2 separate regions of the Homo sapiens genome follow, and region 1 is linked to region 2. Evidence: fine-mapped expression QTL. Tissue or cell type: tibial artery. Region 2 holds a variant in brackets; the other region holds the start of a gene. All regions are shown on one strand. Distances are between the middles of the regions.

Region 1 (4,000 bases), 46 kb before region 2:
ATTTCTTTCCACATTTAAACAGTGGAAGAAGGGGCACTTCCAAATTTAATCTTTCATAGACAGCATATACAGCATTTAACATCTTCTGGATGTTAAAGAAAAAAATATTCTGAAACTTGTTAAAATGGCAAGGAAGAATTTATTCAGGACCAAAGGGGAGATTATGCTGCACTCTGAATACAATAATGACAAGTGGGATTTATAGCCAACAAGCAGAGTGAGGGGTCACTGCATGGAAAATTACTAAAAGGAGATTCTTGTTAAACCAACTTAACAGGACTCTTGTTGAAGGCAGGCCAGGGTTATTAGATATTAAGGATGGGGGATTTTCTTTAAATTGACTTAGCAGAATTCTTTTCTTACTGAGTTTATTCTTTTTTTTTTTTTTTTTTTTTTTTTTTGAGACAGGGTCTCGCTCTGTCTCCCAGACTGGAGTGCAGTGGTGTGATCATGGCTTATGGCAGCCTCCACCTCCCAGGCTCAAGTGATCCTACCACCTCAGCCTCCTGAGTAGCTGGGACTACAGGGGCCCACCGCCACACCCGGCTAATTTTTTTATTTTTTGTGGAGACAGGGTCTCCCTATCTTGTCCAGGATGATCTGAAATTTCTGGGCTCAAGAGATCTCCCACCTCGGCCACCCAAAATGTTGGGATTACAGGCGTGAGCTACTGTGCCTGGCCATGAGTTTATTCTCTTTTTTCTTTTTGAGACGGAGTTCAAGGCCAGCCTGGCCAACATGGTGAAACCCCGTCTCTACTAAAAATACAAAAAAATGAGCCGGGCATGGTGGCGGGTGCCTGTAATCCCAGCTACTGGGGAGGCTGAGGCACGAGAATAGCTTGAACTCAGGAGGCAGAGGTTGCACTGAGCCGAGATCGCCCCGCTGCACACCAGCCTGGGCAACAGAGTGAGACCTTGTCTCAAAAAAAATAAAGACTCTTCGTGAAGTAGTGTTAAGTGGACCCAGGAGAAAAATGAAGATGACCTCTTAATGGCCCTTCAAATGTATAAAGCTTTCTCATTCAGGGAAGAAAGACATAAAGATGTAGCCCAGGCGCGATGACTCAGGTCTGTAATCCCAACACTTTGGGAGGCCGAGGCAGCTGGACCTCTTGAGCCCAGGAGTTCAAGACCAGCCTAGGCAACATGGCAAAACCCCATCTCTACTAAAAATACAAAAATTAGCCTGGCGTGGTGGCGGGCGCCGTATGGGCACCGTGGTTGTCCCAGCTACTCAGGAGGCTGAAGTGGGAGGATCACCTGAGCCCGGGAGGTCGGGGCTGCAGTAAGCCGTGTTCGCACCATGGCACTCTAGCCTGGACGACAGAAAAAGAAAAAAGAAATAAAGGTATAAAAGAAAAAAAAGAAAAGTAAACAGCTTCTTCCAGGGGATGAAGTAGGTTTATTTCGGTGAGATTGCTGCTCAGGACTTAGGAGAGCCATCAAAGGCAGAAGACCGCTCCTGGGGCCCGGTCACCTGAACACTACAAGTCCCAGCAAGCGCCGCGCGGGGGCGGGGCTTGCTGACCGTTGTGACGTGTGGGCGGGGCAGGCGGGACGGGCTCTCCCTTGGGTGCTTAGCCCCGCCCCCGTCCCACTCTGCCCTGTTGCTGTCGCGCCGCTGCTGGTTGCTGTCCCTGGTGAGTGCCTCAAGTGGAAAGGGGCAGTTAGGCCCTCGGGGTGCCCACATTCAGACTTGCAGTCCTGAGAAGGGGCCACGGGGGTAGAGGTGTGGCAAGTTTCGGTTCTCACCGCAGTTCACCCTCTGGGGTGATAGTGGGAGTGGTGTTCTGAAGGCCCTGGAGCCCCTCCCGCGGCCCGGGAGGGTTGCGGGGCAGTTTTGTCTTGCGGAGGGCAGCGCTGCAGTGCTGTGTGGCAGGGTGGGAGGCTCCTCGGGAAGAAGTGACACCCCTGGCGGCGGCGAGGGTCTTGAGGCGGCGGCTGCCGCCCCACGGGTCGTGGCGTCCCGTCCCCTCCCGCGGGCCCAGGCTGTGGTGGTTCCGTAATCCCTCGCCTGGATGTCATCGCCGTTGGCTTCGAGGCGGAGGTGGAGCCTTGTTGCGTCACCCTGAGCAAGTTACTTTCTTTTTGGGCCTCAGTGTCCCCCTTTACGAGTAGGTTTGATCCCTGAAGCGCCTTGCCTTTTGCATGCTGCAGCTGTCGGAGAAGACGTTCTAGGCAGGAGGAAAGACGGTGTCGTGACCTGCCTCTACAGTTAATCCATTGCCCCTCCACCACTGACCCAGCTTAGTTTGGGAGCTAATGTTCCCACTCGTATATTATTTCAACCCCACTGGACGTGTTAACTCTTTTCTATCACTTGGATTCTTGCTTCACATGCAAGCCAACAAGTGACCATGGTTGGAGCTGAGTAAAATATGGATAATATAACTTATTCTATTATTGGAAACACCATTGCAAGTAAAGGACTTTATGTGGTAGGTCTTTGTAGCTTGTGGAGAATACATGATTAAGGAATATCCAGATGGCTCAGTTTCCCAGGTATTTTCAAGGGACCTGGAAACTCTATCCTTTGGCAGACATGACAGCTGTGGAATGGAAAGGGCCTTGAAAAAGGTAGTCGATAATCCTGAGTTACCTGGCACTAACAGGTCATATTGTCTTTCGAGTCAGATAGTACATCTGTGGCTCTTTAAAAATTTAATTTGGCTGACTAGGCGCGGTGGCTCACGCCTGTAATCTCAGCACTTTGGGAGGCCCAGGCGGGCAGAATCACCTGAGGTCAGGAGTTCAAGACCAGCTTGGCAAACATAGCAAAACGCTGTCTTTACTAAAAATACAAAAATTAGTGGAGCGTGGTGGCGGGCGCCTGTAATCCCAGCTACTTGGGAGGCTGAGGCAGGAGAATCGCTTGGACCCAGACAGCGGAGGGTGCGGTGAGCCGAGATGGCGCCACTGCACTCCAGCCTGGGCAACAGAGTGAGACTCCGTCTCAAAAAACAAACAAACAAAAATTTAATTTGGCAGTATGTATTGATAGAATGTCATGTATCCTTAATTATTTTTAGATGAAAAGAGAGTTAAATGAACTCTTTCACTTCTTTTTTCCTTCACTTAGGATCATCATTATATCAGGCAAGGTCCTTGAAGATTTTCTAGCCTTAGCCATGCATTTTGCTGATGAGGAAACAGGCCAGAAAAGGGTACTGTGACTTGGCCAAGCTCTCAGAGTGGCAGAACTAAGATAGGAACCCAGCTCCCTTGGCTGTTAGCCTAGTCCCCTTTCCACCACACTTCAAACACTGTCACTGCCCATGTCACAGGGACATGGCATGTTAGAATCACCCCTGTCAAGGGAAAAGTGGATGGTCTCAGTAAAATGGAGATTAGTACACAGCTTTGAGCCTTTCAGAGTTTCCAGTTGCCCGCACCTGATGTCCCAGAACTATTTTTTCCATCTTCCCCTAGAACTGGCGCCAGCACTATGGTGGTGTGGATGTGAGATGAGGGCCTGTTTAGAAAAAGCTGGACAGCAAATTCAAACAATTGTTAATGAGTAGTAATAAAGGCCTCCTGGGGTGTAAAATTTTTGTAAGACACTCTGAAACATTTTCATATTTTAGGTAAGGGTCTAGAATTAACTTGGAAATTTTGGGCTAGAGCAAATGGCTCGATAATTTGAAGACCAGTGATTGTGTCTTTGCTTTTGCTACCTGTTTCAGGGCCATCTACACACACCCATAGTATCCACTGCTGGTATTCTTTAAGGCTGGTTATGTGTAAGCATTTCTGCCATAGCCAGGGAGAAACGGGATTCAAATCAATTCATCCATTTTTGCTAATTGCTAATCGTTTAGAAAGAAAAGTAAGCAGAAGGCCGGGCACAGTGGCTCACGCCTGTAATCCCAGCACTTTGGGAGGCCAAGGTGGGTGGATCACGAGGTCAGGAGTTAGAGACCAACTTGGCCAACATAGTGAAACCCCGTCTCTACTAAAAATACAAAAATTAACCGGACATGGTGGCACATGCATGTAGT
Region 2 (4,000 bases):
GATCACAAGGTCAGGAGATCGAGGCCATCCTGGCTAACATGGTGAAACCCCATCTCTACTAAAAATACAAAAATTAGCTGGGCATGGTGGCGGGCGCCTGTAGTCCCAGCTACTCCGGAGGCTGAGGCAGGAGAATGGCGTGAACTCGGGAGGCGGAGCTTGCAGTAAGCCGAGATCGCGCCACTGCACTCCAGCCTGGGCAACAGAGCCAGACTCCGTCTCACAAAAAAAAAGTAGGCATTGAGTGCTTATATGGTAAGCACTGTGTTAAGCACTTCATATTTGATGATTTTAACCCCCACAACAAAACATTAATCGTTAATATGTGATAATTAACAAAGTTATGAATAAATCCATTTCACAGATGGGTCACGGAGAGAGGTTGAGTAAATCACGCATGGTCATACAGGGTTGGGATTTTTTTATTTTTTTGAGACAGAGTCCTGCTTTGTTGCCCAGGCTGGAGTGCAGTGGCATGATCTCAGCTCACTGCAGCCTCTACTTTGTGGGCTAAAGCAATCTTCCCACCTCAGCCTCCTGAGTGGCTGAGACTATAGGTGTGCACCACCATGGCCAGTGAATTTTTGTGTTTTTTGGTTGTTGTTTTTTTTTGAGACAGAGTCAGGGTTTCACCTTGTTGGCCAGGCTGGTCTCACCCACCTCGGCCTCCCAAAATGCTGGGATTATAGACATGAGCCACCGCGCTCTGCCAGAATTTTTGTATTTTTTGTAGAGACGGGGTTTCACCATGTTGCCCAGGCTGGTCTCAAACTCCTGGGCTCAAGCGATCTGCCAGCCTCAGCCTCCCAAAGTGCTGGGATTACAGGTGTGAGCCACCATGCCCTGCCTACAGAGTTGGGATTTTAATTCAGGCAGTCCAACTTCAGAGCTCTTGCACTTAATTACAGATGCTCTGTGTCTCTTTCCAGTTCTCCTTTCTCCAAATGGGATCATTCTACCTCTGTAAACCTGTCCTTATGACTTCCCTTTGAGTCAGGAAACCTAGTGCTGATGCCAAAGACCCTGAATAGATTTCTATTAGGGACGAGAGCCATGGAACGTTCCCTTTCCATCACTTAATTCAATCTCTGATGAAGTCCACACCAGTCATTCCCCCTGCACAGCCATCTTGCTCATATCCTTCTCAACAAAGTGGCTCCTAACCCTATCTGGAGGACTAGATAGCCATTCTGGCAGAACAGTGGCCCTAGTCACAAGGGAAAAAGGAACCCCTGTTTGCAAAGCAGCTGTATTTGCTAAGTAAGACACTTTGACAGGCTGAGCATGGCCTGTAATCCCAGCACTTTGGGAGGCCAAGGCGGGCAGATCACTTGAGGTCAGGAGTTCGAGGCCAGCCTGGCCAACATGGTGAAACCCCAGCTCTATTAAAAATACAATAATTCGCTGGGTGTGGTGGCAAGTGCTTGTAATCTCAGCTACTCAGGAAGCTGAGACAGGAGAATTGCTTGAACCTGGGAGGCTGAGGTTGCAGTGAGCCAAGATCACACCACTGCACTCCAGCCTGTGCAACAAAGTGAGACGCCATTTCTTAAAAAAAAAAAAAAAGGACACTGACAAAATGCCTTTTAAGGAAATGATATTTGGGGAGATATGCTGTCAGTAGTTTCGATAGGAACTCAGCATTGAGTTCCTACTGAGGAAACAGCAGAGAACATCTGTGAACATCTGTGGTTGGGTTCT[C/T]CTTCATGTTTCACCTCTTTCACATACCTCACATACCCCTGCATCCATCCTGCCCATCCTCTATTCCATTTGTCCTGTCATTTTTGACCCCGAGTTTTGACAACCCCAAACCTTGTCCCTCCATAAAGTAGACAGGCTAGTAGGTCATCATGGTGAAGAGCCCAGACTCTGGAACTAGACTGTCTGGTGGCAACTTTAGACAAGTCACTCAACCGCTCTTGGCTTTGGTTTCCCCATTTGTAAAATGGCATTGACAATTATAGTCTCTGCTACAGCTAGATGAGTTAAAATGGGTAGAGCATTTAGAGCAGCGCCTGACACACGCTGATTGTAAGCACTCAATACGTGTTCTTCCCTGCCACCTGATTAACAGCTTTGTGAAATTGGGCAGGTCACTCTGAAAGAGGGTATGATTATGATGTAGTGATTAAGAGCACTAGGTTTGACATCAGATGCCCTTGAATCTTGACTTTTTTTTTTTTCTGGAGACAGGCTCTCATTCTGTCACCTAGGCTGGAGTACAGTGGTGCAATCTCGGCTCACTGCAGCCTCAATCTCCCAGGCTTAAGTGATCCTCCCACCTTCAGCCTCCTGAGTAGCCAGGACTACAGGCATGCGTACACGACACTTGGTTCTGTTCTTGTCTCCTGTCCATTCCACCCCCGAGCCAGCAGTCCCAGGAGACAGCCTCTTCCTATTCAGTATCTCCCCCATGTAGGAGCTTAAGTAAATGAAATACCACCACCCCTCTCCCATCTTACCTTGAGATTAGGAAAGACTGTGGTTGAGGGCAGCCTGTGTTACTGAATGTTATCTTCGTGGGCTTGGCTCCAGAGCCCTCAGCAGGAAGAGGGACTGGACCTGCAGCCTCAGACTCAGCACTGGGACTTATAATGAACAGAGTCCTGAGCCCTCTGGTGGGGAGTATTGGGTTCCATTCTGCTTGCTCCTTGCAGGGCCTTTCCAAGAAGTCAAGGGCCCTTGACACTTTAAGGAGTGCCCACATCATGTCAAAAATATTAAAATGCACTGACATCCCACAGAATTTTTTTTTTCTTTTTGAGATGGAGTTTCGCTCTTGTCGCCCAGGCTGGAGTGCCACCACGCCTGGCTAATTTTTGTATTTTTATTAGAGATGGGGTTTCCCCATGTTGGTCAGTCTGGTCTCAAACTCCTGACCTCTGGTGATCCGCTCACCTCAGCCTCCCAAAGTGCTGGGATTACAGGCGTGAGCCACCATGCCCTGCCTGAAATGTGGTTTATACATAAACTATATATACAAACTGAGTTGAGTTGCAGTTGGTTGAGATTTTGTTTTGTAGCCATTTATTTCAATATTTATCCAATGCCATTTTGCAACTGTCTTTTTTATTTTGAAAACAATAACTTTTTTCCAGGTTTCAATAATAAGCCCTAGCTCCTAAGCCATTGTGTCTAAGGGATGGGCCAGCAGTCCCTCCAGTGCTTAGGCTGACTTGGTTGGATTCCCTGGTCCCAGAGCTTGTCAACTCCAGAGCCCATGTGAACCATGCCCACCCTATCTATCTATTCATCCACCCATCCATCCATCCGTTCGTTCATTCGTCCATCTGTCCATCCTTCCATCCATCTATCCACCCACCCATATCTATCTGAGCTGTCTATGGTAGAAAAAAAGCAACTTGGGCGGAGGCTAGAGAAGACAAGCATGGTGTGAGACTGCCCTCTAGAGATTGCTACAGGAAAGTGCAGGTGGGGAGCTCCCTCTTTCAGGATAAGATCAACCCCACCACTCGTTCACTCATTCACATTTATTGAGCGAGTACCTACCTATACCCGGCACCGTGTACTTACCTGTTCTGGGAACAAAAGACAAATACAAAGAGAAACACCACACGTCCCTGTTCTCCAGGAGGTCACCATGTTGTAGCAGTGACTGCAAACACATAAACAAATGATTACTGTTCTGTGCAATGACTACTGGAGTAGATGTGCACCAAGTTCTATGGGAGCACTGAAGGCAAGGAAATAAGTCTGGGGCAATAGGGGAGGTCATCACAGGGAAGGTGGCATTCAAGATGGGCCTTGAAGGATGTGTAGAAGTTTGCCATGTAGTGCTGGGGAGGAAAGGCATTCGGGGCAGAAGGAATGGCAGTGTAGAAATGCAGGCTTGTTGAGGGCCAGCAAGAGGTGTGGCAAAGCTGGAGCATGCATAGTACCGAACAGTCAAGACCCAGCTAGAGAGGCAGGTGGGACCAGATAGTGAAACTCCCACTCAAAAAACAGGAAGTGAGCCAGGTGTGGTGGTGCTCACCTGTAC

What was found. PIP is the estimated chance that this variant, and not a neighbour inherited with it, causes the effect.
Region 1: CALCOCO2 starts here. The variant in region 2 is fine-mapped to the expression of CALCOCO2 in tibial artery (GTEx, PIP 0.92).

Annotation. Positions count from the first base shown.
Region 1 is chr17:48,829,437-48,833,436 of GRCh38, forward strand. CALCOCO2 (calcium binding and coiled-coil domain 2) reads left to right here and starts at 1,599. Exons shown (of 13, transcript NM_005831.5): 1 at 1,599-1,642. RefSeq lists an enhancer at 1,603-2,484 and a silencer at 1,855-2,014.
Region 2 is chr17:48,875,730-48,879,729 of GRCh38, forward strand. LOC105371814 (a long non-coding RNA gene) reads right to left here. Exons shown (of 4, transcript NR_135674.1): 3 at 3,535-3,616. Among named protein-coding and RNA genes, the nearest start is that of ATP5MC1, 15 kb to the right of the region's middle. RefSeq lists an enhancer at 3,363-3,462. The variant C/T (reference allele first, on the strand shown) is at 1,702.